Homo sapiens: one gene and its partners. The protein of the gene in region 3 interacts with the protein of the main gene of each other region in a biochemical or structural test. Each region holds a gene or a part of one and is shown on either strand. Other genes may lie near its edges.

What was found.
Region 1: of the proteins of CHAF1A (region 3) and CDC7, one has a biochemical effect on the other in vitro, tested with the Homo sapiens proteins (one study listed by BioGRID).
Region 2: the proteins of CHAF1A (region 3) and ANP32A form a complex in vitro, tested with the Homo sapiens proteins (one study listed by BioGRID).

What each region holds. Positions count from the first base shown.
Region 1 is NC_000001.11:91,510,832-91,518,573, reverse strand, and holds part of CDC7 (cell division cycle 7-related protein kinase), read right to left. Parts: intron 6,978-7,742; coding exon 6,884-6,977; intron 6,794-6,883; coding exon 6,651-6,793; intron 5,517-6,650; coding exon 5,267-5,516; intron 4,627-5,266; coding exon 4,531-4,626; intron 3,756-4,530; coding exon 3,577-3,755; intron 2,833-3,576; coding exon of another isoform or gene 2,823-2,832; exon of another isoform or gene 2,781-2,822; coding exon 2,698-2,780; intron 42-2,697; exon of another isoform or gene 1-41. UniProt on the Homo sapiens protein: Kinase involved in initiation of DNA replication. Phosphorylates critical substrates that regulate the G1/S phase transition and initiation of DNA replication, such as MCM proteins and CLASPIN.
Region 2 is NC_000015.10:68,810,173-68,817,914, reverse strand, and holds part of ANP32A (acidic leucine-rich nuclear phosphoprotein 32 family member A), read left to right. Parts: intron 1-7,742. UniProt on the Homo sapiens protein: Multifunctional protein that is involved in the regulation of many processes including tumor suppression, apoptosis, cell cycle progression or transcription. Promotes apoptosis by favouring the activation of caspase-9/CASP9 and allowing apoptosome formation.
Region 3 is NC_000019.10:4,404,847-4,413,284, forward strand, and holds part of CHAF1A (chromatin assembly factor 1 subunit A), read left to right. Parts: intron 1-1,065; coding exon 1,066-1,116; intron 1,117-4,056; coding exon 4,057-4,913; intron 4,914-5,658; exon of another isoform or gene 5,659-5,677; intron 5,678-8,438. UniProt on the Homo sapiens protein: Acts as a component of the histone chaperone complex chromatin assembly factor 1 (CAF-1), which assembles histone octamers onto DNA during replication and repair.

The DNA of each region.
Region 1 (7,742 bases), on a different chromosome or scaffold from region 3:
AAGATCTTCTTTTTCGTGGCTGAATAGTACTTCCATTGTGTGTAAGTACCACATTTTCTTTATCCATTCATCTGTTGACGGACACTTAGGTCGCTTTCAAATTTTGGCTATTATGAATAGTGCTTCAACAAACATGGGAGTGCAGATACCTCTTCGGTACATTGATTTCCTTTCTTTTGGGTATATACCCAGCAGTGGGATTGTTGGATCATGTAGTAGCTCTATTTTTAGTTTTTTGAGGAACGTCCAAATTGTTTTCCATAGTGGTTGTACTAATTTACATTCCCACTATAGAAACTTTAATCTTCTGAATTCTGGTAGTTAAAGATTACGACTAGCTCAACTTGATGTTAAAAAGCTCTTTTTTTTTTTTCTTAAAGTTGACATCTCTCTTAATTGTTGACTTCCTAGTATCACCAGGTTATCTGCTCTCTGTTCCTTGGGCTACTGTATCACCTTTTTTTTTTTTTTTTTTTTTTTGAGACTGAGTCTCACTCTGTTGCTCAGGCTGGAGTGCAATGGTGCGATCTTGGCTCACTGTAACCTCTGCCTCCCGGGTTCAATTCTCCTGCCTCAGCCTCCCCAGTAGCTGGAACTACAGGTGTGTGCCACCATGCCCTGCTAATTTTTTGTACTTTTTAGTAGAGACGGGATTTCGCCATATTGGCCAGGCTGATCTCGAACTCCTGACCTAGTGATCTGCCTGCCTTGGCCTCCCAAAGTGCTGGTATTATAGGCATGAGCCACTGTGCCCGGCCCTACTTGCCTTTCTTAGCTCCTTTGGTACCTCTGCCTGCTCCTTCAATGTTTTCTCCAAGCCTTAAGTGCTGACGGATATTCCTCAGAGTTTTAACTTCTCCCTCTGTATACTCTCCCTGATTGGTCCATCCACTTCATGGCTTCAACTGTCATTTATATAATGATGACATTCATCTGTATTTCTAGCCCAGCTCCTTCGCTGAGCATCAGACTTAACTTTGATTCTGCTGGAAATCTCTATTTGGATGTCCCACAAATACCTCAAACCAATTATACCCCAAACTAACCTTACCTTCCCCTATAAACCAGTTACTTCTCCTTTACTCTCCACCTTGGTTACTGGTACACATCCAAGTCTCCCAAGCTAGGAATCTGGTAAACATCCTGAATGCCTTTTTCCCTCACCATACCACACCCTAATTCTACATCCAATTATCCACCAAGCTCTGCCTTTCTAACCCTTCACTTTTCTTTTCATTCCTATTACCAATACCCTCATTCACATTTTCATCCTCTCACCCGGACAAATTCATGCCACCACTCTCCAAAAGCTAATCTGTTTGCACGCCTGCCAGAATGATCCATCTAGGATATACCATTGTCACTTTTTTCACTTAACTTTCCAATATCTACAGTATATAGTCCAAACTGTAACAACTGTGGTCTGACCTTGTCTACCTCATTCCAGGTTTATCTCTCACCATTCCTCAACTTGCATCTTAATATTCTAGCAAAATTGGACTTTTTTTTTTGAGATGAAGTCTTGCTGTCGCCCAGGTTGGAGGGCAATGGTGCGATCTTGGCTCACTGCAACTTCCGCCTCCTGCGTTCAAGTGATTCTCTTGCCTCAGCCTCCTGAGTAGCTGGGATTACAGGTGCGCACCACCACACCCAGCTGATTTTTGTATTTTTAGTAGAGATGGGGTTTCACCATGTTGGTCAGGCTGGTTTCAAACTCCTGATCTCAGGTGATCCGCCCATCTCAGCCTCCGAAAGTGCTGGGATTACAGGCATGAGCCACCGCGTCTGGCCAAAATGAAACTTTTTTAGTTTCCTGTATGCTGTTTCTTGAGTTCCTTGGCTCATGCCTCTATGCTAACTTCTCAGCCCAATTTACATTCTAAGAGGTCATTTCTTTCATGAATTGCCTTTCATAATCTCTTTGGGTTAGGATAGTTAGATACTCCTTAAATACCCTGAATAAGTTTTATTACCATACTCAACAGGTTATTTTATAATTATTTGATGGTGTCCTGACTAGAGTGTGAACAGATGGTCTCATTTATTTATTTGTTATCATTAGCAAGCAAGAACAGACATTCAATGAATGAATACATTTCTTCAAAGCCCATAATCCAAGTGAATAGCAGGATTCATCTATTCATTCAAGATGTTTCCTGGATTCCAGCTCCATGGTAAGTTTTTAGATTACGGAAGACATTTTTCTTTTTCAAAACCTTCTAACTGCTATTATATTGTTTATATAATAACAAAAGTAATTTTAATCAAACACAAATATATCTACATCACAGGAAACTTTTGAGGTATTAAGCAAGCAAATAAAATGCTTTAAGTCTTTGGCTGGCAAAAACTATTAAACATAATTTTTTCCCCCACAAAGGTGATGTCAGCAAAATTCCACAGATTACATTTTGCGTATTTATTTACAAGATGGTAAGATCATCTTGTAAATAAATACGCAAAATGTAATCTATGGAATAAACTGTTTAAACAAAAAAAGAGAGGCAACATTAGGATTAAAAACTTTCATAAAGAATAGCATTAGCTCAAAAATAGGAATGCCACACTGCAAGAACTGCTTACATAATTAAAAGCAGAAGAACTCAAATATTAGTTATAAATAGACAAAGATCATAAAATAAAATACGTCTGGAACAATCCATTTTAACTAGGTTCTGTATTTCCAGTACAACATACCTGTAGTTTGATTGGGGCACTTTGTCAAGACCTCTGGTGCTCTGAATCCTGGTGTACCTGCCCTAGGGGCAACCTGCTGACGCCTTATGATGAAATAAGATTTCTCTAGTTATGTTAAAGTTGAACTATGTAAGTCTAAAAAATAACATTCATCAATTTAGTTCACAGTAAATTTTGCCTTGATACCTATATAATAAGTGTTACTATAAAGTAAATGATAATCTAGTGTGATAAAAATCCTAGATTTTTCTTCTTCTGTTTTTTACCCCCTCTACTAGTTCCCCGGACTTACTCCAGAAAGGTTTAAAATAACCTCCAAGAATAAAAAGCAGTAGTGGATAATAAGAGCCATAATAGAAAAAATAGAACCCAATAGCAATTCACAGGTATAAAAATTCATTTGTTTGGAGTAATTGATCACAGATACACTTATATATTTGAGTTAATCAAGAAAGGCTTTATGAAAGCCAAGCCTTGAAGGAAAGGAAGAAATTTATGAGTCAAAGAGTTGGAGGTGGGAGTAAAAGAGGAGCTCTACTATTTGGTTCTGGTTACTCCACATAAGCGGGAATAAAAAGAGAAAACAGAAAAGACTACATCAGCAATCAAAATGTGTGATTCTAAGCTTCTAAAAGCCACCCCGTCCCACTTATTTGCATATAAGAGCAAATGTGTTTTCCAGAGTATATCCATATTAAATAAATAATATATGAAAACTGTTATCATTTGCTCTTCAACATACTACTGCTCTGCATCAAGGCCCATTGCAGTTCACTGATCTGAACTGATCCCTTGCACTCACAAAATTATCCACCCAAGTCAATGCAATTTCTAATGGCAGCATGCTGGTGATTTTATAACACCATCAAAACACATTACCTTGAAAGGCAAATACTACAAACTTTATCTGTTGCATAGCAGTCACAGGTCAGGCTAGCTGGGCAAGAACTGGCAGTTTTCCTCATCACAGCACTATTCATAACTTTTGTAGAAATAGCCTTCTTTTTTGTTGCTAACTTTCTAGACAGTACATCCACAGTCTTTGACTGCTTCATGAGCTGTAAAAGAAAAGTCTCATTTTTCTATTTTCATGATATTAAACATGATGTCCTAAAATGCTAGTATGGCAAAAAGCAATAGCGGAAGCATAACTTTAAAAACTGCTGAATGGCTATTGGACTGTAAATAAACTGTTGTCTATTAAAATGTTTAAGGTCTTCTTGGGTTTTTCTGTAAAGTCACCTTATATTAAAATTTACTAATTAGTCCTAGCTTGGCCAATATTTGAGTTATACTTTATTAGAACTTTTCCTGATATATTACAGAAGTATAAAACAGTTATGTTCTAGTGTCTAACTCCATTTCAGAACTGTAAACTGCACAAGTACGTTGGCTAAAATCACAGTTTTAATTTGTTGCTCATGCTGTCTAGCTGTCACAAGATATCATAAGTCAATCTGAAATCATCTACATTGATGATGATTTTGTTAACTTTACAAACATCTTTACACTATCAACTATGTGTCAGAATAGTTAGCTAACTGTATGGAGCTCACACTCTAGCAATGACAGAAAGCCCTTAATGTTCTAAATGTTCCTCTAGAGAAAGACAGTAATAGCTAACCAAAAATGAGAAAAAATTCCACCAGAAAAGTTCAGAAAAAAACTGGAGAAAACAAGTTTTGACTAAATGCTTAAAGCAGTAATACCTTCTGCCAAAGCCAAACTCTAGTTTAAAAAAATTTCTGATAATAAATGTTAATCTAGTTATTACCTAAATTCTCTTCAGTGTATGACTGACTGACCATTATGCTATTAAGCTACATTACTTACTTTCACTGCAGGGCTCTCATGTGAAATGGAGCTGTGTATATTGAAATTTCTTTCTCCAAAAACAGAGCGCTGGACAGAAAGGCCTACAGATCCCTCCTACAATACCAACAAAAACAAGGAAAATAAGGATTATATCTGTAACACTTTCTGCCAGCTGTACTCTGCCATAGTTTTGAAAGAGTTAAGTGAGATGAAACAAAAACAGCTGCATCCAAGTCATTCTCAGGCACCAAACCACTTCTGTGAAAGGAGAAAATAGTCTAGACAGAACTCAACACCCATACAATGTTATCATAGTCCACAAATATATATAACTAAAAAAAAATTCAAAAACCACCTGCATGGATGTTACATTTTGCTGTGCAGCTAAAATGGAGATAGACACTTCAGAATTCCTCCCCTATAACTAATGCTTTCTTTTAAAAAGGATAATTAATCTGAACTTTTTAACATGCAGGGAAAATTTAATATTTTCCATTTTTGTCATAAAATATGATTTCATAATAGTTAATGACAGATGTTATAAACTGACAAAGTAAATTTTAGTTTTAAAATAGTAACCAAAATGATTCAGTACAAATCTTAGTGAAAATTTAATCAAATGAATACATATAACAAATGCAAAAAAAAGTTTTTTAAATTATAAGTACTATCCTAGTATTCTATCTCCCTCTGTTGGTTGAAGGAGTATATTTCTAAAACAGTGTCGGTACTTAAGAAATAAAAGAGATAGAACCTTTCCGTCTTTTCCTTGTTTAATCTGAATTTGTGCATTTGTGTAGGGTCTTTTAACAGAAGCTTTTGTGGTGGACTGCTGATCCAGCTCCTTAGGTACTGGGCCACTCAGTGGAATCTTGTTTCCTGTGATTATGTGGGATTTGTTTTGTGAACACCTTTCCTGCTGAGCTTCAGACTGGACAAATTTAAGAAGCTCTATTTTCGTATCATGGGTTCCTTGGGCCAAACCAAAGTCTACCAAGGCATACCTAAGAGACAAAATTAAGCATTTTTACTTATCTGTAGCAATTAAAGCTTAGTAACATTGTAATACTCTCAAACCATCCTCATAAAAACTGTAATTCTTTTTGGGATCAATTAGGAATTTATAACATTCTGGAAAAAAGAAAAAAAAATAAGTTTTCCAGACAAAGTAAGAATTTAACAGCTAACCAGGATTGAAAATTAAGAGTTGTCCCACAATCAAATTTTCTTTTTCCAGTGGTCTGTGTTAATAAGGCAGAAGAGGAATACATAACATAAACACAGTCCGTTGTTCTCTGATGGTGGCAGAGATGGCATCATAGCAGATAATTTCTAGTTAAGAAAGCTTAAAAAAATTAAAATCATGGTTTTAAAATCTGATCCAATTAAAGAAAATTAAAAAGTCAGGCATATAAAAGCTCAAAAAAGAAGTTATAATATTATTATGTTTAATATGATCCATTATATAGAGGTATTTATGTTATTTTTAGCTTATAATTTCTCTATAATTATAATCAGCATTAAAAAGTATACATAAAAATAAAACTTTTGTGTTAAAACAGGAAATTGGCTATCATGTGGTCCAATCCCCTCACTTACTAGAAAAGAAAAATGAAGTCCAGAGATAAGAGACATGTCTAAGGTCAAAAATTATTAGACTCTAAGTCTGTTAGTTCATGCTATTTCCACTGAACCATAGTACATCTAATAATGTACATTATTCCACTAATACAATTTTATCTTCTTCATCACCAAATTTCCCTTTCCAATCACAAAGAAACTGAAACAGAAATAATCTGTGCATGGCTATTGCAGTATGTTATATTATATCTAAGAGATATAAGTCAGAGGATACAAAGTAGCAGATATGTAGGATAAATAAATCTAGACCTAATGCACACTCTGAAGATTACAGGTAATAAAACTGTACTGTATATGAGATTCATACTAAATGAGTAAATTTTAGCTGCTCTTGCCGTAAAAACAAAAATAAGATGGGTAACTGAGATAAATATTTGCTTCACAATAGTAACTTTTGTACTATATATAACATCATGTTCAATACCTTAAATATAGACAATAAAATTGTTTTTTAAAAGAAATAGGATAAATATTTTCTAGTAACTCTTCATACTTACTTTTTCAGGCGCCTATTATATAAAAAATTGCTGGGCTTAACATCACGGTGAACAATACCAAACTGATGAATGCGTTTCAAAGCTTTGAACAGATTAAGCATATATTCCCGTACTTCTTGAAAGGAAAGAGAATTCAGAATGTCCTAAAACAAAGTTACAAATGAAATGAGTTACAAATATTGTTTGCAATTAAATATTTAGCTAATAAAAATTCAAGAAATATTAAAACCTACCAAAAACGACTCATGCTCCAGATATGGCATAGCAATAACTACATGATCATTCTTCCTAAAGCAGTATTTAACTCCCATGACATTATCTTGCCCCCTAGTGGAAAAATGCACAAGGAACTTTTAGAAGAAAGGTCAGAGGGACTGAAACTTTATGCCTAATTTTAAAAACCGCAATTTTAGCAATGCATACATATTGCTAGAAAACTGACTTAAATCATCATCACATAATATAAACACAAGTGACTTGTGTTCTCGTGTTAAAGTTTTCTTTTAAAACAAAAATGGCACCAGTTTTGAAGTTACTATAATAATTCAAACGAGGTAATTATAGTTGTGACTGGGGAAGCAGCAGAATGAGAAAAAAGGGAAAAGATTAATAAGACTTAGCAGATAAGATGGTAACAGTAATAAATAAATCAAGGTCACTAAACTAATAGATCAATGAGCCAGGATTTGAACCCAGGCATTTTGCTCCAGATATATGTTCTTAATCACTATGTTACACTGCTTCATAAAAGAGGAAAATAGGACAAAGGTGATTTCTATGATTTTGAGCCTGAGTAAGAAAACAATAGAGATACCAAAAAATGAGTAGAGAAGCCAGTAAAAGAAGCATCTAAAACCAGACCTCATCATTTTGATAGAGTTATCTAGACAAGGGACTAAGCCTTAAGTGAGAAGACAAGTGAGAAGTCAGTGAGAGTACCTGCAGAGAAGTGATACCTACAGACATGAAAATTAATAGCGAGAAAAGAAAACTGAGCTTGGAAGAAGCCAAGTTAGAGAGCCAAATAAGAAAGGAATTTTGAAGGAAGAGTTATTAGCATGGAAGTCAAAGAGAATAACAACTGAGGGAAGG
Region 2 (7,742 bases), on a different chromosome or scaffold from region 3:
GTCACCGTGGCTGTTGTCGCTGTGGGGGGCGGGGGGAGCGGAGTCTTGCGCCATCACCCCGACGGCCTCCCGCGCGGAGGAGGCAGGGGGAGCCGGCTTTGGGGACCCCCAGTTGTGCTATGAGCCCCGATGGGGGTTTCCGCCCCGCGCCAACGGCCTGAGGCTGTGCTGGAGAGTCACGGCGGCCGCGGCGCCGGGAGGACGACGATCCTCTGTGCAAATGCCCCCCCCCACGCGCTCCCTGCCTCCCCCGCCTCCTCTCCGGGGTTTCGCCGTTCCTCCTGCAGGCGCTCAGACGTAGTTAAATGTGGCCTTAAGGACTAACCGATCGCTCTGGTGTTTGCTCTTTCGGCGGAAGTGATAGAGTAAGGGGAACATTAAACATGAGGTTCTTTTGGCGGGGGTGAGGGGTGTCGCGCACGCGACTCTAGTGGCCCTGACTGAAGCCAAGGACAGCAGCCTGTTCCCCGGGAGGGAAGAGTTGTCGATCCGTTGGGGAAACGCCCTCCCGGGCTGGGCTCTCCGGGAAGGTAGGTCGAGCTCCGTGTTTCAGGTGGATGTTGCAGCGCCCTGCAGGCTAGGGGAACCCTCCTCCTCGGTCTAAACCTGCTCCTTCCCCCTTTTATTTTTGCCTGGGAGAAGGCAGCTACAATAGTAATGAGATCCTAAAGCGAAAGAGAGGGATGAAGGTTTGCTTTTGAAAAAAGTAAACCGCCTTTCTCCGGATGTTGACTTAGGAGCCAGGCAATTCGTCGCGTCGGGTCCTCCGATGCTGGCATCTCTGAGAATTTTAAAAAGCCGATATAGGTGCTGGTTAAGCACCTCACGAGCTGAACTCTGGTATCTGTGCAGAAACTAACTTTCATGGCAGTGTCCAGCAGAGGCTGCCTTGGAAGCCAGCTTTTACTTTGACCTTTGGAATACATCGCATGATGTTTTCCAGGCTGACTTACTGCCTAATTGGGTTCAAGTAGCATGATATTAACTACAGTTTATGCAAGCCAACCAGGAACTCGCAGGCAGAAAATTGAGCCTGAGTTCCCCTGTGGTCATAGTCAGTTGAGTTCTGCTGCTGATAGTAGTTTCGAGTCTGAGGGGCTCCATGATGAAGATGGGCTTAGGAATTACACAGACCTGGGTTTGAATTCCTCCTGCCACAAGGAGGTAGGATACGTTTACCTGCCCTTGTGACCTTGGGCTGGTGAGCTTAACCTACCTTTTTGAAGCTTTGTTTCTTCACCTGTAAAACGGAATAATCCTATTTAATCAGTAAATGATGACAAAATTGGTTTGATATGGCCCTCAGTATATGCTGTCTATATGACAGTTTTAGTCTCGGAGACATATCAGGGTGCTTCCAGGCATTACTTTGAGCTCCTCCATGGTTTAGGATAATAACAATATTAGCTAGTGCTTACATAGCAACCACGCTGTGTCTGGCACATTTCTTAAGTGGATTACATGTATCAACTAATTTAGTCCCCACAACAGCACTATGAGGTAGGTATTATTATTATCATCGTCATTGTGCATATGGAAATTGAGGCATACAGGGGTTATCATGTGACCAGTGAGTGGCAGAACCAGGATTCAAACTCAGCCAGTCTGCATACTCAACCTCTACACTCTACTGCCTCCTTTGAAACACCCTTTTTTTCTTAAGATACTGTAAGGAAGAGCTTTTTCTTCTCCAGCTTTGGAGTGGTGCCACCGTAGAAAGAGAATGAGTTTTCTATTATTGAAGACGCTGAAATGAAGAGTGGATAGCATCCTGGTTGGAGATATTAGAGGGCCAGGAGGTTCAGGACCAGGGGCTGTGGATTATCATTTTATGAAGCCTTGCACTGAGTTTGCTTTAGCACATCACAGTGGGTTAGGTTGAAGTGGATCTGGCCTTCAAGGTGCTGGGGGACACATTTTGAGTAAGGAGAAGACAAGCAGGAGCTGCTCAGGCAGTCTGCATCTGCAGCCAAAAAAACTCAACATAACTGGCATGTCTTTAGTATCTGGGACATAGTATGCTCATAGCACCTCATGGATCATCTCACTTAATCATCCCAGCAACTCTTTAAGGGTAGGCCAAGCAGTGCAATGCCACCCCTGTTGTGAGGATGAATCATCTGATTTTTGGAGAGGTTGAGCAACTGGTAGGTGGCACAGCCGGGTTCTCGCACTGCAAAACCACAGGCCCCTTTGGTGGACAGAGATTCCGAGGATTGGATAGTCCATTGGGTCCATGGCCCATTACCAGAATCACGTGAGAGGCATGTAAAATGCAGATTCCTGGGCTCCACCCCAATCACAGGAGTACCACAGCAATCACCAAACTATAACTGAGCTCCCAATTTTTGTACAGTCATGAGCTAAGAATTATTTGTACATATAAACGTTGCAGTCAATTTGATGGTATGGAACACTCTTTGAATCCCAATGACTTGAAATGTTATTCTCCCAAAAAATAAGAAATCCACTTGTCTCGTTAACAGATCTCGTTACAAAAAAAAAATTGTACTCAATATATTCTGAACTTTATCAATAAAAGAATTGTGGAAATGTGTTAGATTTTTCTCTTGTTATAAAAGTCCCTATGTAGTGTTCTTAATTTTGGCTCTTGATAAAGTTTACTATCTGCCCCCTTTGCAGAAGAGGTTTGCTGAAAAGGTGGTTCAGTAGATTGGAGGGTGGGCCCCAGGGATCTAGTGTTTTGCTTTGTTTAAGCAAATGGCAAGCCATATATTTGGGTGGTACTCTCAGGGTCTTTTTAAGTCCTTTTATGTGTTCTGTGCCCTGTAAGTAATTGGTGCCTAGTGGAAATCAGCCTCAACCCAGGAACCTCCATAGGAAGAGAAATTATCCTTGTTACTGGTTTAGTATGAAGCACTTCTCGTCTAGAGTTCTGTATAGCCAGCTGAAATTCTTCGTTGTGTACTCAGAACATGTCAAAGCCTTCTGTGTATCTTGTAGTTGAATGGTCACTCTTAGGTTCTAGATGTCATCTCAGAGATAGAAAGAGCTTTGGGTTGCAACGGTTAGAGCTTTGAGGCTTGAACCAAAGGCGGGGCAGCTGTGCACCCAGTGGCTCACATCAGCCTTTCAGAGCCCAGATCTTTGAAAATGACAGATAATCCTGGAATCTCTAGTTTTTGGCCTGCTGCTTTTCTACCATGCGTGTTTCCTGGGGAATGAACCAGCAGCATAGTGGCTTTGAGTTTCAGAAGTTTTTCCCTCTAGCGTCTTGTGCCTGAGCTAATGAACGGAAGGAATGGTTATAAAATTGGCCAGGTCAAGGGGAGGAGGAGATAAATTCAAGGGGACAAATCCTAGTCCCCATAACAGCAGCCTGTGTTATGACAGCACACCACAGCCCCAATTCCCTCTTTCCTGCTGCTGCTGCACCACCAGCCTCTCAAGGTGGCTTACTCTAGACTTACACAGTTGGCCATCTTTCTTTTTTTTTTTCTTTCCCCATAGCAGTATGAGACTTGTTTCCTTTTTTATTTATTTATTTTATAATTTTTGTAGAGACGGGGTTTTGCCGTGTTGCCCAGGCTGGTCTCAAACTCCTGGACTCAAGTGATCTGCCCACCTTGGCATCCCAAAGCGCTGGGATTACAGGTGTGAGCCAGCGTGCCTGGCCCCCTTCTTCAATACCATTGGAAAGACATCTGCTTGAGCTTTCAGAGCTGTCCATCCCAGAGCTTGGGTCCAAATTAATTACATCACATTGAAATAAAAAACTTCCTGGAGGCTGGGTGCAGTGGCTCACGCCTGTAATCCCAGCACTTTGGGAGGCCGAGGCGGGTGGATCACGAGGTCAGGAGATCAAGACCATCCTGGCTAACACGGTGAAACCCCGTCTCTAGTAAAAATACAAAAAATTAGCCGGGCATGGTGGCGGGTGCCTGTGGTCCCAGCTATTCGGGAGGCTGAGGCAGGAGAATGCCGTGAACCCGGGAGGCAGAACTTGCAGTGAGCAGAGATCGTGCCACTGCACTCCGGCCTGGGGGACAAAGCGAGACTCCGTCTCAAAAAAAAAAAAAAAAAAACTTCCTGGAAATTGTGTAGGATACTCTTTAGACATCTCATGCCTTTGCTATTTTGGTGCAGTCACTTAGGAAAGGAGCCGGGAGCTTGTTGGTGATTGGGCCCTGGCCCAATGAACGTGGCCCAATTGTCTGGCCTGAATTCTAACTTAGTTTAAGAGGAGGCTCATAGCTCTGGTGTCTAGAGAGGCATTCCTTTAGAAATGTTTGCCACCAGCATCCCTCCTCTTTGTTTTGGCAGTCCATCCCTTACTCTAGCTAGTTCTCTGGTCTCCTAGGAACTACCCTCTCCCAGTCCCCCAGCACCACTGCCTTCAAGTAGAGAAACATGGACCTGACTCTGAATCTTCTATAGCTTTGAAATAGAATTATACAACAAATGATAAATACCCAACAATGATGTTTTCATTAAAGAGATGGAGTCTGGCAGGGACAGAGATTTGTGAAGGCATCTGTTATTCAGAACTTCTCATTTAATAAAATTTGTTGAAACTAGATGAGCAAAGCACCATGGCCCTGAGCCACCTTCTCAGACATGGAAGCAGCCTCCTTGTCTAGAACTAGTTGTCCTGATGATATACAGACTCTAAGGAAGATAAAAGTCCCTTTATTCTACCACACCAAGCCCTGTCCTGGGCCTGCTGGGCCACACCCTGCAACCCAGTGCTTTCCCTCAGATTTATTTTGTTTTAGCTCCACAGCTGCCCCCTGAATTCATTCAGCTACTGTTTCCTTTACCAAAACTTGCTCCAGGCAGCAGATCTAAAAGATCAGCTTACTTACTACTCCACTGTTATTTACTCTAATGTGGATTAAAGTCAGCACTGTTTTTCCCAGAGGTATTTACATTTGGAGATTCTGGTTTGGTGAGGAAATTACCAGAGAACTATTAAAGACTTGGATGCTCTTCTCGGCTTTGCTATTAAGTAAGTTGGACAAGTTGTTTGGCTTCTTTGAGCCTCTGTTTTCTCCATTCTGAAATTCTAAAATGGGAGTGTTGAATTAGATCAGTGGCTTTCGAACTTTCTGCTCCTAGTAGTGAGAAATACATTTTACTCCACTCCCTGGTATGTACACGCATTCCTGTGTTTTGTGAAAAACCGACACCATGCTCCTCCCTCACTACATGTAAAACACTTTTATTCATTAAAAAGAAAACTGACTGGCTTGGACCTACAAATTAGTTTCATTATTTGTTAATGTTTGAAAGCCATTAAAAGATGAATATTAAGGTTTCTTTATACTCAATACTTGTAGTTTTGTTTGGGGGAATGAGAGGATGCCCTTGGTACCTTTGTGAGGCCTCTCCACTGAGGGTCAATCATGACTTCTGTTTTAAACCAGCCCATCCCATCTTCTCCAGCTGCTCTCCTTATGTCTTGCTTCTCTCCCCTCCAACCTTCTCAGCATAAGGACTCAATCCTAGGCTCCTACCCCAGACGGGTGCCTTCCAACGTTCCTGGTGCCAGTGGCCCCCCATCAGCCATGTTCCCCCAGCCCCTTCTCCACACTCTTGTCACCCAGGGCCCCATCCTTCAGTGCATTGCACACTTTGCATGCTGGGTCAGGGAAGATTGTGGAGAGAGGACAGTGCACCTGGTTTCCCCCACATAGACTGCGTGGGGGTATGTCCTGCTTCCGCCACTTCCAACTGTGGCACTTGGGCACGCCCCTCTCAGGGCACCTTCCCTTTTTGTCTCCGCAAAATGAGGTTGTAATAGTGCCTGCCGCACTGTCTGGCACACAGTAAGCTCTCAAGAAATGTTAGCTGTTGTTGCCGTTAGAACACCATAGCTAGAATACCATACCTGGCATTCACTTAAAAAAAAAAAAAACAACTTAGGGCCAGGCGCAGTGGCTCACGCCTGTACTTCCAGCACTTTGGGAGGCCAAGACAGGCAGAGCACCTGAGGCCAGGAGTTCAAGAACAGGCTGGCCTTGTCTCTACTAAAAATACAAAAAAAAAAATCAGCCGGGTGTCGTGGCAGGTGCCTGTAATTCCAGCTACTCTGGAGGCTGAGGCAGGAGAATCGCTTGAACCTGGGAGACGGAGGTTGCAGTGTGAGCCGATATCGTGCCACTGCATTCCAGCCTGGGCAACGAGCGAAACTCGGTCTCAAAAAAACCCAACTTACATTATCCGCAGACACATTACATACAAAAGTAACCATTTTCTTTCAATGGGAAAGGAGGTTTAGAAGCTAGAGATTCAAAGTTACCAGGAGTTACTTTTTCCCACTAGGAATTCACTACAGTCCTGACATTGGACTCTAGGTAGTTTCTACTGAGGGTAAGTGACTCGTCCCTCTTCTGGGCAACTCTTTTTCTTACTGCCCTCAGCAGCTATTTCAGGCCTCCACCCCTTCCCTCCCGGCCAGGACGTCCTCTTCACAGAAAATGGAAACCTCCTGGTTTCTTAAGTAGTTGTGAGGCTGAACCTGCCTTAATCCCTCCCAGTTCAGTGGTCTTCTTGTCTTGTCCATCCCTCCCTCAGTTCCCTTGTTCCTCCTGGGCACCTAGCCACTCCTGTCCTTTGGATTCTTCTCCAGCTGGGGATGCTTCTCCCATCTTAAAGCAAAGACTCTAATTGATCCCGTGTTGCGCTGTAGTTACTGCCCATCCCACTCTTCTCCCTACTCCCTAAACTTTCTGAATTGTCTATCTTCTCCATCCTGTCACCTCTCTTACTCCACCACGTGAAGTCTGGTTTGCTTCCTAAATAGTGCCAAGAATCCCAACAGCCTTCATTTCTTATCTTGCATGATGTCTCAGTGGCGGGATTCAGCATTCTTTTTTTTTTTTTTTTTTCCCAGACAGAGTCTCACTCTGTGGCCCATGTTGGAGTGCGCAGTGGCTTGATCTCAGCTCACTGCAACCTCGACCTCCTGGGTTCAAGCGATTCTCGTGCCTCAGCCTCCCGAGTAGCTGGGATTACAGGTGTCCACCACCACGCCCGGATAACTTTTTTATTTTTAGTAGAGAAGGGGTTTCACCATGTTGGCTAGGCTGATCTCGAACTCCTGACCTCAAGTGATCTGCCTGCCTCGGCCTCCCAAAGTGCTGGGATTACAGGCGTGAGCCACTGCGCCCGGCTGGGATTCAGCATTCTTGACTTTATGATAGATGCTCTCCCTTTCTCTGGTATATCTTCTACGGCTCTAGTCACTGCTCAGTTTCTGGTGTCCTGTTGCTCTCCTGTTTAGCCATGAAGTATTGACTTAGTCAAACTTGGGCGCTGGGCATTCTTATCCTGTATTCTCTCCAGTTGGAAATTTGTCCTTCCTCACTGACAGCTGCAGGTACTGCGTGCTGCTCTCTGAGGTTTGAAGTTTACTGCTTGAGTAAGCTTGAGACCCACCTGATGTCTCCACCTGGGTGCTCCAAAAGTGCCCTACTCTTAAGTCCAAAGGGAACCCATGTCCTCTGTCCCTTGCCCACCACTGCCCACACACACACACTCATGATCCTCTTTCCATCCATCATCATCACAAGTCTTGTCTGTTTAAAACATGCTCTGTTGCTTGCCACTGATCTCCCTGTATCATAGTCTAGTCTTCTTGAAGCCATGCTGTGACCTTCAACTAGAATGATCTTATCAAAACACACATGTAATGTCACCCCATACTTAAAATTCACCATTGTTCCTAGGATAAAGTCCCAAATCTTTAATAAGACCAACAAGGTGCTGCATGGTCTGGC
Region 3 (8,438 bases):
GGTTTCTTGAGATTTTTTTTGCAGGAAAATATTTTGTCTTATCTTCTCTTGACAGCACTTCAGCTCCTGCCTGGCAAGCTCAAAGTGCTTTAAATTGTGGTACCTTCATGAATTCTCTTTAAAAAGAAAAGGATCCCTTTTCTGATTTTACAGATTTGGTGGTGGTATGGGGGCTTGGGTTGGAGGAAGATGTTTGGGGATCATGGGAATGAAATAGGTAATCTGATGTTTTCTCTCCTCCCTACTTTTACTCATTCCACTTTCATTTCATGAAACAGTTCCGGTTACTCTCTTAGTTGGCTTTCTGATTTATTCCAGACCCTAACCAGGTACCATAGGTGCAGCATGGAACAAGTCTTTCTGCTGTCATAGAGTTGGCATTTTGTTTCCAGAGAGACGTAATAAACACGAAAGTTTCAGATTAAATGCCACAAAGAAAATAAAACAAGACATGACAGTGTCTAGGGTAGGATTTCTCAACCTATTAACATTTTGAGGCCAAGCGCCGTGGCCAGCACTTTGGGAGGCTGAGGCGGGTGGATCACGAGGTCAGGAGTTCGAGACCATTCTGGCTAACATGGTGAAACCCCGTCTCTGCTAAAAATACAAAAATTAGCCGAGAGTGGTGGCATGCGCCTGTAGTCCCAGCTACTTGAGAGAGTGAGGCAGGAGAATCGCTTGAACCCAGGAGGCGGAGGTTGCAGTGAGCTGAGACTGTGCCATTGCACTCCAGCCTGGGCGACAGAGTGAGACTCTGTCTCCAAAAAAAAAAAAAAAATTTTTTTTTTTTGGCCCATATAATTCTTCATTGTGGTGTGCTGTGCATTGCATTGTGGGACATTTAGCAGAATCCCTGGCCTCTACCCACTGGATGTGAATAGCATCCCTTTGAGCCCTCCCTGCATCATGACAACCAAAAACATCTCTAGACTGTGTCAAATGGCCCCCGAGGACAGAGGGGTCAGAATTGCCTCCACCTTGTACATAATTGGCTCTACATATGTATTTGCTAACTTGATTATTTGCAGAATTTAACAGTTTACCCTTTGACACTTTTATTTGCAGCCATGGATTGCAAAGATAGACCAGCTTTTCCAGTTAAGAAGTTAATACAAGGTAATTATTTGGAAATGGGTTAAAGAGTTGTTCGTAGTTTATAGTCTTCCTTGTCTCTTGTTGGAGACCTCAGTGGAAGCCTGGAGCTAGAGGGGAGAGAAACAGTCCTTCTTCAGACCAGGAAGCTGGGAAAATGCTTTTCACACAGTAATGTCTCGTGGGGTTCCCACAAGTAAACCCCGAGGCCTCCACTTATGCACGATTGGTGTTTTGTAACTTGCAGCTGGGAGCTCTCCTGTATGTTGTAGGGAGCGTAGCAGCATCCCTGGCCTCTTCCCACCGGATGCCAGTAAGTGCATCCTCCAAGTCGTAACAACCAAAAATATCTCTATACGTGGCTGATGTCCCCTGGGAGGTAGAACTGCCCCCTCAGAGAACCACTGTTGTCCTGGAAGATAAATGCTCCCAAATCCTTCTGCATAAAACGGGGAGTGTGTTCACCCTTGGGCCAGATGAGCGGTTGGATTGTAATTTTTTTTTTTTTTTTTTTGAGACGGAGTCTCATTCTGTTGCCCAGGCTGGAGTGCAGTGGTGCGATCTCTGCTCACTGCAACCTCCGCCTCCTGGGTTCAAGCAATTCTCCTCCTTCAGCCTCCCAAGTAGCTGGGATTACAGGCGCGTGCCACCACACCCAGCTAATTTTTCTATTTTTAGTAGAGATGGGGTTTTACCATGTTGGCCGGGATGGTCTCGATCTCCTGACCTTGTGATCCCCCTGCCTCAGCCTTTCAAAGTGCTGGGATTACAGGTGTGAGCCACCGCACCCGGCCCAGATTGTATTTTTAGAAACTACAGTTTTGGGTTTTTCAAACTTGGGCTGGGTGCAGTGTTGCATACCTGTAAAACCAGCTATTTGAGAGGCTGGGGTGGGAGGAGTGCTTGAGTCCAGGAGTTCAAGGCTGCGGTGAATTATAATGACACCACTGCTCTTCAGCCTGGATGACAGAGGAAGACTCTGTCTCTTGAAAAAAAGGGGGACGCCAGATGCTAGGCTCACACCTGTAATCCTAGCACTTTGGGAAGCTAAGGTGGGCGGATTGTCTGAGCTCAGGAGTTTGAAACCAGCCTGGCCAACATGGTGAAACCCCGTCTCTACTAAAATACAAAATAGCTGGGCATGGTAGGGGGCACCTGTAGTCCCAGCTACTCAGGAGGCCGAGGCAAGAGAATTGTTTGAACCCGGAAGGAAGAGGTTGCAGTGAGCCAAGGGTGCGCCACTGCACTCCAGCCTGGTGACAGAGCAAGACTCTGTCTCAAAACAAACAACTCCCCCCACACCCCCCCCAAAAAAAAACAGGTTTTTATTTGGTCTATTACATGATGAAATAGTTAATAAAAGATGCAATGGCATTGAAGTAAGTGAACATAGGTTCTTTGGGAAATTCACTCTCCAAAGTGTTTCTGTGTTCCTCCTAACCAGCCCGAAGCCTGGCAGACTCTGGGAGAACAGTTTGATTGATGAGAAAAGCCTAACAGAGCCTAGGGTGCTGAGGCCAGGAGAAAAAAAAAAAACCCTGTCCACAAATGTGTCTATATTTTCTACTTGAGAACCAGATGCAGTTATTATCAAATGAGATTTTCACCCATTAAAAATAAATTTGGAATATGAACTGCATCTGAAATAAACAAATGTCTCTTGAAATTCTGGCGATGGCTCTGCTAAAAGGCTTGTCAGGATTTTGTTTTTTAAGTTAGGATGTTGAAGCGGGGCATGGTGACTCACATCTGTAGTCCCAGCACCTTGGGAGGTGGAGGCGGGCAGATCACCTGAGGTCAGGAGTTTGAGACCAGCCTGGCCAACATGGCGAAACCCTGTCTCTACTAAAAATACAAAAATTAGCTGGGTGTAGTAGTGCATGCCTGTAATCCCAGCTACTTGAGAAGCTGAGGCAGGAGAATAGCTTGAACCCAGGAGGTGGAGGTTGCAGTGAGCTGAGGTGGCGCCATTGCACTCCAACATGGGTGACGAGCAAGACTGTCTCCAAAAGAAAAAAAAATAAGTAAAATTAGGATGTTAGAAAAGGATAGAATGAAAAGATAGCACCCCCCACCCCCTCTTTTTTTTTGAGACGAGGTCCCTTTTGCCCAGGCTGCAGAGTAGTTGCACCACCACAGCTCACTGCAGCCTCTACCTCCTGGGCTCAAGCGATCCTCCTGCCTCAGCCTCCCGAAGTGCTGGGATTATAGATGTAAGTCAGTGTACCTGGCTTCAGATAGCCCCTGCCCCGTCTTTTTTTTTTTTTTTTCTTTTGAGAGTTTCGCTCAGGTCGCCCAGGCTGGAGTGCAGTGGCGTGATCTCAGCTCACTGCAGGCTCCGCCCCCCGGGTTCACACCATTCTCCTGCCTCAGTCTCCCGAGTAGCTGGGAATGCAGGCGCCCGCCACCTCACCCGGCTAATTTTTTGTACTTTTAGTAGAGACGGGGTTTCACCGTGTTAGCCAGGATGGTCTCGATCTCCTGACCTTGTGATCCGCCTGCCTTGGCCTCCCGCACCCGGCCTTTTTTTTTTTTTTTTTTTTTTTTTTTTTTGAGAGGGAGTCTGTCTCTGTCGCCCAGGCTACAGTGCAGTGTTGGGATCTCAGCTCACTTCAACCTCTGCCTCCCAGGTTCAAGCGATTCTCCTACCTCAGCCTCCTCAGTAACTGGTATTACAGGCGTGTGCCACCATGGCCTGGCTAATTTTTGTAGTTTTAGAAAAGACGGGGTTTCACCATTTTGGTCTGGCTGGTCTCAAACTCCTGACCTTGTGATCTGCTTGCCTCGGCCTCCCCAAAGTGCTGGGATTACAGGCATGAGCCACCACACCCGGCCCAGATAGTCCCTTTTTAAACTTTAAAATTATCTCCCACCCCCATGTCCCAACAAATCAGTAATTTTCAAGCTCATGAGTGGTTGTAACTTTAAACGTTCACTAGAGATGGCTTTCTGTCTTTGTTTCAGCCCGTCTGCCGTTTAAGCGCCTGAATCTTGTCCCAAAGGGGAAAGCCGATGACATGTCAGACGATCAGGGTACTTCTGTGCAAAGTAAAAGCCCCGATTTAGAGGCCTCTTTGGACACCTTGGAAAACAACTGTCATGTGGGTTCTGACATAGACTTTAGACCGAAACTTGTCAACGGGAAGGGTCCCTTAGATAACTTTTTAAGAAATAGAATCGAAACCAGTATTGGCCAGAGCACAGTCATCATTGATTTGACAGAGGACTCGAATGAGCAGCCAGACAGTCTTGTGGACCACAATAAACTAAATTCTGAAGCCTCTCCCTCCAGGGAGGCAATAAATGGCCAGCGAGAAGACACTGGGGATCAGCAGGGGTTGTTGAAGGCCATTCAGAACGACAAGTTGGCATTTCCTGGAGAGACCCTTTCAGACATTCCTTGCAAAACAGAGGAGGAGGGTGTTGGCTGTGGAGGTGCAGGGAGGAGAGGCGACTCCCAGGAATGTTCGCCACGGAGCTGCCCGGAGCTGACGAGTGGCCCGAGAATGTGCCCCAGAAAGGAGCAGGACAGTTGGAGTGAAGCTGGGGGCATCCTGTTCAAAGGGAAGGTGCCTATGGTGGTCTTGCAGGACATCTTGGCTGTGAGACCACCGCAAATCAAGTCCCTTCCAGCCACACCCCAAGGCAAGAACATGACCCCTGAGAGTGAGGTGCTGGAATCTTTCCCCGAAGAAGACTCTGTACTCAGCCATTCGTCCCTGAGCTCTCCCTCTTCCACCAGCTCGCCCGAGGGGCCGCCTGCTCCCCCAAAGCAGCACAGCAGTACCAGTCCCTTCCCCACCTCCACGCCCCTCCGCAGAGTGAGTATCTCCCATGGAGTCCCTGCACATCAGTGCTCACGGATCTCAGAGCGCTGTCAGTCTCCACTGGGTCACCCAGGTGTTTTGTGGCAGAGTGAGCGGGGCCACGGGCTGGGTCCTGGGACTCGACGTGGAGTTCTTCCTGGTATCAAAACTCACAGTGTTCAGTTCTGCATTCGTTGTGATGCCCCTGGGACTTAATTCATCAACAGTGTACCTGGTGTACTGTGTGAATAACACCCTGCTGTTTTGCCTTCGTTGTTCACATCTAATCAGTGATAGCTTAGCCGTTTTAGGGAATTAGGATCTGAGCTGGTGCTGTAACCCCTCACTTCAGATTCGAGGTCCAGCTTTCTCTGTGCCCTTCCTGTCTAAGCATAGAAATGTAGGGACGGGGCTGCAAAGACACTGAGCACTGAAGTGGCAGTGAGACGGCAGGAAGCATGACTTGGGGAATTCTGTAGGGTCAGCACAGCCAGCCATCTTAAAAACCTTACCTGGGGCCAGGCACAGTGGCTCATGCCTGTCATCCCAGCACTTTGAGAGGCCGAGGTGGGAGGATCGCTTGAAGATCACTTCAAAACCAACCTGGGCAACATAGACACCATCTCTATGAAAAAAAATTACTTTTTTTTTTTTTTTTGACAGAGTCACTCTATCACCCAGGCTGGAGTTCAGTGGCGTGATCTCGGCTCACTGCAACCTCCACCTCCCAGGTTCAAGCGATTCTCCTGCCTCAGCATCCCTGATAGCTGGGATTACAGGTGCGCACCACCACACTTGGCTAATTTTTATATTTTTAGTAGAGACAGGGTTTCACTATCTTGGCCAGGCTGGTCTTGAATTTCTGACCTCAAGTAATCTGCCCGTCTTGGCCTCCCAAAGTGCTGGAATTATAGGCATGAGCCACTGCACCCAGCCCTGCAAAAAAATTTTTAAAAGTTATCCAGGCATGGTGGCACATGCCTGTAGTCCCAGCCACCTGGGAAACTGAGGCAGGAGGATCACTTGAGCTGAGGAGTTGGAGGCCGCAGCGAGCTATGATCACACTGCCGCGCTCCAGCCTGGGTGACAGAGCGAGACCCCATCTGGAACCATTTTTAAGGACCCCATAAGGGGGACTTTTGCATGGTCTGTCTCTGTTATTGATTTTTTATTAGCACAATGGTGTCCTTAAGGTCTTAGGGACCAAACTGATAAAATCAGTCACGAGTCCCACGGTGTTTAGTGGTGTCTTTTGATTTTATAATTTTTTACTTTTTATCTTAAGTATGTAGAACCAGAAGAGACAGTGCCTTTTTATGTTTTTGGTTTTGTAGCACTTTTGTTTGTTCATGTTGGGTCTTTATATGAGAGTAGTAGATCCTGAGATGGGTCATTTAATCTGTACCTGTAAGCAGGTACAGTAGACCACCTGGACCATAAACCACCAACCTTGTTCGCTTTCGGGATTTTGAGCTCTAAGGAACCATTTATTTATTTATTTTTGAGACAGAGTCTTGCTCTGTCACCCAGGCTGGAGTACAATGGCGCCATCTCAGCTCACTGCAACCTCCGCCTCTTGGGTTCAAGCAATTCTCCTGCCTCACCCTCTCAAGTAGCTGGGATTAGAGGCACCCGCCACCATGCCCAGCTAATTTTTGTATTTTTAGTAGAGACGGGGTTTTGCCATGATGGCCAGACTGATTTCAAACTCCTGACCTCAGGTAATCCACCCGCCTTGGCCTCCCAAGTTTCTGGGATTATAGGCGTGAGCCACTGTGCTTGGCCAAGAGCATTTATTTTTCTGAATGACTTCATTTCTTGTCTTTCACCTGAGAAGATGAAAAAGGAAAAAATGGCTTCCTCTTTAGGTTTATGAAATGTTGTAAAAATGGTGCAAATCTTTTTTTTTTTTTTTTTTTTTGAGACATGGTCTCACCCTGTCGCCCAGGCTGGAGGGCAATGGCATGGTCTCAGCCTACTGCAGCCTCCACCTTCTAGGTTCAAGCGATTTTCCTGCGTCAGCCTCTTGAGTAGCTGGGATTACAGGTGCCCACCACCACGCCTGGCTAATTTTTGTATCTTTTCAGTAGAGACGGGTTTCACCATGTTGGCCAGGCTGGCCTCAAACTTCTGACCTCAGGTGATCCGCTTGCCTCGGCCTCCCAAAGTGCTGGGATTACAGGCATGAGCCACCGCCCCAGTCTTCTACTTTGTTTTATATGTGCTGGTTTGTTATATAGGTAAACTCTTGTCGTGGGGGTTTGTTGTACAGATTATTTTATCACTCAGGTACTAAGCCTAGTACCCTCTTCTAAGTTACTAAATGTGCCAGACTGGCATGTACACATTTCAGCTTCTACCTAATCCACCACTCAATCTCCCAAAATCAGAGTTGAAGTCTCTCCCCATTGGGCATCCTGTAGTGTACATTCGATCACTTGAATTTCTTCCAGGCTGCTGCCGCTTTGCAAAATTTCGTCCTGTGATGTGAGCCATTTAGCAAGAACGGGACACATGGCTGGGCGCGGTGGCTCACACCTGCAATCCCAGCACTTTGGGACGCCGAGGCGGGTGGATCACCTAAGGTCGAGAGTTCAAGACCAGGCTGACCATTATGGAGAAACCCCGTCTCTACTAAAAATACAGAAAATTAGCTGGGTATGGTGACGCTTGCCTGTAATCCCAGCTACGCCGGAGGCTGAGGCGGGAGAACCGCTTGAACCCAGGAGGCAGAGGTTGCGGTGGCCTGAGATCGTGCCATTGCACTCCAGCCTGGGTAACAAGAACAAAACTCCGTCTCAAGAAAAAAAAAAAGGACAGGACACAAGCACATGTTTCCATTAAGTTTGTTTCCATGTCCACAGCTTAGTCTGCAAACTGGGAAGTCCCCTCGTTGGGCATCATGGTGGCACAATCCTGCCCGCTTTCTAAAACAACTGAGCACATGAACCCAGTGTGCAACATTTAGGAAACCCTGCATTTAGGACGCTAGATCTTGTTCTGAACACAGACTCGAGGTTTTGGGATGCACTTGAAGGCAATATTATCCCAACTTTTCAGATAATTTACAAGTGGTAAAGGCTTCAGGCTGGCCCAGAGCCTATGGCAGAAAGCGGCCACAACCACCCGCAGAGGGCCTGTCAGTCACCGAAGCTATGAGGGAAGCGATTATCGGGAGGCCTCCTCATGCCCTGATGGCAGGGATCCCTGAGATCCCAGCTGAGAGAGACTCCATCCCCAACCCCTACTTTATCTCCGAACCTTTAAGGAGTCCTGCATTTCTGGTTTGGTTGGTTTGCTTGCTTCATAGTTGGTACCTAACTCTTTTTTATTTTTTATTTTTTTTGAGGCGGAATCTCACTCTTTTGCCCAGGTTGGAGTGCAATGGCGTGATCTTGGCTCCTGCAACCGCTGCCTCCTGGGTTCAAGCAATTCTCCTGTCTCAACCTCCCAAGTAGCTGGGATTACAGGCACGCGCCACCAGGCCCAGCTAATTTTTGTATTTTTAGTGGAGATGGGGTTTCACCGTGTTGGACAGGC